Regions from separate parts of the Homo sapiens genome. Here region 1 is linked to region 2. Evidence: fine-mapped expression QTL. A gene starts in region 2. The other region holds a variant in brackets. All regions are shown on one strand. Distances are between the middles of the regions.

Region 1 (3,018 bases), 63 kb after region 2:
GAGCTTTTATATTTTTCATCTCTCATAATTTCCCATTGCCCTAAGTATATGCTCAGTGCCTCCCCACGTTTCCGAGGCTTCAGAGGTGAAGAGTGATATATTGCAAGCACACTTCAAGCCATGAGTGCCCATCCTTGCCAAAAATCACATCCTTTAAATGCAACAAGAATTACATATGGCCGAGTGACAATTCAGTCTATAATACAGGAGCACAGCTGGGGGAGCCATGGGAAGCACTGCAGGTCACAGCGTGAAGTTGATGATTGTGTTTCGCCAGTTTCCTCTAAGAAGTGGATTGTTTTCTTGAGCTTTTTTTTTTTTCTTAAGTAATAGTCTTATACTTTTGGAATAGTCTTATTTTTATTTGAAAAAGTCTTTAGGAACAAGACATCTTCTCACTTTTGATTGAGAATATTCAAGATGTTTAATTCGAGGTAACAGGCATTTAGTCTGAGAATCCATTCCCCTCATCCCCGCCCCAGGAGTGCCTGGGTTCGTGGCATTTGATAAAATGAAGAAAATAAATGTGACCACACAGATATTCACCATGGATCTCCCATGTTCCTCTGTCTGAATAACACTATGGAATTCTTGGAAGCAGCTTGTGTGTTTTAATCTTGGAAGCTCAGGAATTCCACCTGGTCTGCACCTGCAGAAGCTACAGTAGGCACCCCACCTTGCTGCTGATGCAGTTTCTGTGCCATTGCTGGTGGAGGCAGCGGAGCAGAGGCGCAGGCACAATGAAGCGGGGACGTGTTCTGCAGATTGCTGCTAAACTCGCCTTATTCTGACTTTTGGATTTCATGACATTCCAGGGAGCTACCTGCCATGCTGTTGGCCTGGAAGCCCACCTGACTGGTCCATAGTGACGTCCTGAAGAGCCAGTCTGTAAAATAACCAACAACTTGTTTAGCTTTTGGATAGACTCCACACCTCCTCTTTCTCTGCAAAGAAAAATCTTGAATATTTATGGATGACAATTAGGGAAAGTATTGAAAATAGTGAAATATAATTAAAAACAACATGTATTTTTCATGTTATGAAAAATATTGAAAGAACTGATATTAATGAAAATTAATATTTTATTTTCCATCTCCCCAGTGTAACTAATTTGTGGCAATCACCCCCTACCAAGAGCAGTAATGCTGTGTAAAGCTGGCTTTCTGGAGTCCGCTGGATCCATACGAAGTGTGATCCCTGGTTTCCTCTGTTACTTGCTGCATCCAAGCCAGGGGAGCAGGAGATGCTCAGCTCTGGTGCCTTTGATTTTATGTCA[G/T]TGCTGCCTTCCTGCCTGCTCAGTTCACCCACCCCCGTTTCCCTCCGTATGGAGGCAACAGCATTTCAGGATGTACCTTGGGGTGTCAGGGTAGCTGCAAGTAAGGGTTTTTATGATCCTCATGGTCTCATTGATACAGACAGGAGACAGGGAAATACTGGATAGAAGAGGGTGGGTTGCTGGCAAAGGCTCCACCCTCAAGCCTGAATACCTGTGGCCCTAAGTGAGAACAGGCATTCCTGTTTTTGTGCCCAAAAAGCTGCCTTTTGGCCCACCATGCCTTCTATCCTATACCCTTATAAACGCCAAACCCCAGGCTCCAGAAGCAGGTGAGAAGATGAGGAGACAAGCCGATAAACAGCAAAATGATGCAACAGAGAAAGAGAGAAGAGGAGGAGTCTCTGAATGCCAAGAGGAGCTTGGCTGTGGATGGTCAGAGAGGAGTTTAGCTGCTGGGTGGCCAAACTCTAGGAGAAGATCCCACTCTATCCCCCTTCCAGCTCCCCATCCATCCTACTGAGAGCCACCTCCACCACTCAATAAAGCGCCCGCATTCTCCACTCTTCAAGTCCCTGTGTGACCCAATTCTTCCAGGATGCTGGACAAGAGCTCAGGATACAGAAAGTTGTCACACTGTCCCTCTGCCCTTGCAGAAAGGCAGAGGGGGCACAGAGCTGGTTAACACTTAAGCCGTCTGCAAGGCAGAGCTAAAAGAGCATTGTAACACTGGGGTTGCAGGCACCCACCCCAGATGCTACTGTGGGGCCAGAGCCCAAAGCTCTCACCCCAGCTCCTGCACCTTCCCGTCTGTGTGGTCCCCCTCCCGTAAGGGGGGTTTGAGCTCACGGCGGTGGAACAGAGGGCAGCACCCCTGTGAGGGGATTGCATGCCCTGTGAGGGGAACCAGGGAACTCTCCTGTCTTGTTATCACTGATCATTGATAAGCATTTCAGAGTGGGATAACATCATTCATAGAGGTTCCCAAAAAGAAAAAAAAAGAGATACATTTCTCACAAACGGATCCATAACCAGGACATTTTGATTTCTTCTAGTTTTTGATGATTATGAAAAAAAGCTGCTATAAACATTTGCATGCCAGTTTTTGTGTGGTCATACATTTTTAATTCTGTTGGGGAAAACCAACAGGAGCACTATTGCTGGATCATATGATAAGGTTATGTTTAGCTTTGCAGGAAAGTACAAAATTGTCTTCTAAAGAGGCTGTATGACTTTGCATTCCCACCAACAATGAATGAGAGTTCCTGTTGCTCCACATCCTCACCAGCAATTGATATTGTCGATGTTTTGGAACTTAGTCATCCTAGTGGGTGTACAGTGGTGTGTCATTGTTGTTACCTTTTAAAATTATCATTTAGCAGAAGAGCGATTGGTTTAGAACAATTTTAGCTATATTCTAAGCTATATTCTCGCCAGCCGTGGAAGAACTTTTGTTTTCCTGTGACTCTATAGCTTTTGCTCGTGTTTTCATGCCTCTCACTCCTCCTCTTGCTGTTACATGAACCGTCATGTGGTGGGTATATGCAGTGCTATCTGCCACCTCTACTGGAACCTCTTTCATAATGCATTTCTTCTTTAGGCTGGAAAGTTTGGGGTTCCTGCCAAAACTTTCTGGGGACACTTGTCACAGTTCTAATTTCTGTATAACTTTTTTTTTTTACTTTTTCTTTTTTTAATTTATTTTTTATTATTATTATACTTTAAGTTCTAGGGTACATGTGCAC
Region 2 (2,708 bases):
GGTGTTCATCCACTTTTTCAGTACATGCCTGCAAGATTCTATAAAGGGCCACAATATCCTCCGGGGTAAATGTTTCCAATTTTTCACCTTGAAGTTGATTTATAATGAGTTCTAGTGTCACACAACCTGAACTGTGCAGTGTAATCAGACTTTCCCCAAGAATACAAAGATTGCGAACTTCCATGCCACCTTTTCTGAGACGATTTTGGCATTCTGCCACCAGGTTCAGCAACAGGCTACTTTGAGGATCCACATGCAACAGAATCAGAGCTTGCAAAGCAGTCACTAAACTAGTGTTTGACAGCTGTGAGGGCTCCTTTTCAAACTGAAAGCATAAAGCTTGAAAGATGCTATTCTCCAGTATTTCTTTTGGCAGCCCTTGATCACCATCCTTTTTTTCCACTTCACAAATTCGTTGTAAAGCTCCTGCTGCCATAGTGTCAGGCAGGGTTTCCATCGTGCTTATAAAACTTAGCACTTCTTCTGATGAAGTCAAGTTGCTCAGTCTCCTGTAAAACATCTGACTCTCCTCATTTTTAACATTTTGTTCAAGCCTGTCGCAGTCAGATACTTGAGAGAACACTGGTCCACCGAGTGGATGAAGGTCATTTCCATTTTTCGAATGAAACTTTTTACAATGGGCATGATGGAATTTGACCCCGAAAGGCTCAGGTTGTCGTGAACACAACCAAGGGCACAGACGCTCCTTGACTACCTTGTGAACATGATTTAGAGGTTTATTTTTTAAAGCAGCCAGAGCTCTATGCATCTGAAAATCAGATAAACGATAAAGGTTCTTCCTCAAGGTGATTAATGCCATACCATCAGATTCTCAATTTGATAACTAAATTAAAAAATTTAAAAACACATGGTTAAATACATTGAGAACATGATTGACCCAACATCAATGTTTATGAAACTACAAACGAGTATCTGGAAAAAAAAAAAAAAAAAAAAAAAGGATGGTTAACATATAAACACCAGAGGGGCAAAGTCTCTGCATCCTAGAGTTAGAAGAGTGGCTGACATTGAACAATAACAATCGCTATTACTTGCTAAACACTGTTGTAGGTATTCTATTAACTTACACAGATTCAGTACTTTTACTATCATTTTACACGAGGAAGAAGTTGAAGCACAAAGTTACTTTGCCCAGTTTATGCAGGTGGTTAAGTGGCAGAGCTAGGGTTCAAACTCAGGCAATGTAGCTCTTAAGGGTGGCCCTTAAATGTTGGTTGAAGGAAGAAATTGCATTTGGATAGAAATCAAAGAACAGGTAAAGTGGGCAAAATTAGGCGAGGTTAGAGCAAGGCAAGGGTAAAAACGCGCTGGAAAGGCCCTAAGCTGTTGGTTTCCCCTCGGTGTCGGGAGAAGGTTAGTGTTGAAGGAAAGGGTCTACTTTGTCAATGGAAACAAGGTAGGAAAAGAAAAAGCAAAACATAGATCAATGAAGGGAGAAGGTGGGGCGGCCAGTCCAGATCTAAAGACGGTGCGGGGGGATTTGGCAACACGTGTGTGCAAGACAGACAGACGGGAGGCCCCGCGGCGCGTTTTCCTAGGAATGAAAGGGACCCGCGGGGCGAGCACCCCCAAACTCGGCGCCCCGGGGACCTGCGCTGAGACACGGGCCGGGCGGCGCAGCCTGAGGAGAAAGCCGGCCAGGTCTTTGACACCCAGCCGGACCAACTGCGCGGAGACCCCGCGTTGACACCTACCGCGCTCTGCCGGGCAATCACTCCGGGTGGTCGCGGAAGCGCCTGGGCGTCGTGGGCCTCCGTAGCAAACGCGGGGCGGGAGCACGACTCAGGGCGGCGCAATGTGATTGGCCCAGGTCCCCTTCGGAGCTTTCTATTGGTCCTGGGTACCGAGCATGGGCGCTGCGTCAGTGCGCGCTGGCGCAAGGTTGGTGGAAGTCGCGTTGTGCAGGTTCGTGCCCGGCTGGCGCGGCGTGGGTAAGCTGCCTGTCGGCTACGGTTCCCGGATTCCGGCCGCTCGCCCTGCACTAATCTCCTGGGAGAGGCGGCCCGGGGCGGGGGTGGGCAGCCGGCTTGCGCCCGTGGTTCCCACGCCCTTCGGCCTCCGGGGGTCGCCGCGGGCGCGGGCTGGGGCTCGGACTTGGCCTTTGGCCTTTGGCTTTGGTGTCCCCGGGAGCGTGTCCTTGGGCTCGGCGTCGGCCTCTGCCGCGGGAGGCCCCTGGGCGGCGTGGGGTCTCTCCTCATGTTCTGCCTTTGGTTCTAGGCGCTTTCCAGGCCTAGGGAAACCGCACTCGGGGACGCGGGGAACTGGGGAACATGCCGGGTTGGGGCGGCGCGCTCCGGGGAACCCGGGACGTTCCGAGCGCCCACCCGGCGGGACGCGGCCGTGAGTTCTGCCCGCGGCCGTGAGCTCTGCCCACCGCCTCCGCGCCGCTTCCGGGGCTGCTGGGGCCCGGGCCTCCGCTGAGAGTCGTGGGAAGGTGGTGCCGGATTGTGGGGCAGTAGCAGGGATGAGGGGTTGATTGATCCTGGGAAGCCCTCAGGATGTGTGTTTCATGGGAAGTGATAGAAATTTTAGCTGTAGTAAGGTTTTCATTATCGTTTCCACCGTTTTCTGTGAGCTGTCAATGTGTAGTGTTTTCATATTGTTTATTCACTCATTCAGATAACTTATCGAGTACCAGTTTCATGCCAGGTGCCGTTCTGGGCGGTTCATTCACCGAAAGCCAAGCT

Direction of the effects. Alleles are on the strand shown, and positions count from the first base shown. SD is a standard deviation of normalised expression in the study named.
With allele G in place of T in region 1, the expression in monocytes of the gene that starts at base 1,768 in region 2 is higher (moderate effect, 0.51 SD a copy in Fairfax 2014).

Evidence for each region. PIP is the estimated chance that this variant, and not a neighbour inherited with it, causes the effect.
Region 1: its variant is fine-mapped to the expression of FASTKD3 in monocytes (Fairfax 2014, PIP 0.95).

What each region holds. Positions count from the first base shown.
Region 1 is chr5:7,930,006-7,933,023 of GRCh38, forward strand. No RefSeq gene overlaps it. Among named protein-coding and RNA genes, the nearest start is that of MTRR, 62 kb to the left of the region's middle. The variant G/T (reference allele first, on the strand shown) is at 1,277.
Region 2 is chr5:7,867,264-7,869,971 of GRCh38, forward strand. FASTKD3 (FAST kinase domains 3) reads right to left here and starts at 1,768. Exons shown (of 7, transcript NM_024091.4): 1 at 1,716-1,768; 2 at 1-933. The coding sequence starts at 820. It overlaps MTRR (5-methyltetrahydrofolate-homocysteine methyltransferase reductase), which reads left to right and starts at 1,885. Exons shown (of 15, transcript NM_002454.3): 1 at 1,885-1,952. RefSeq lists silencers at 1,778-2,217, 2,228-2,277, 2,338-2,387.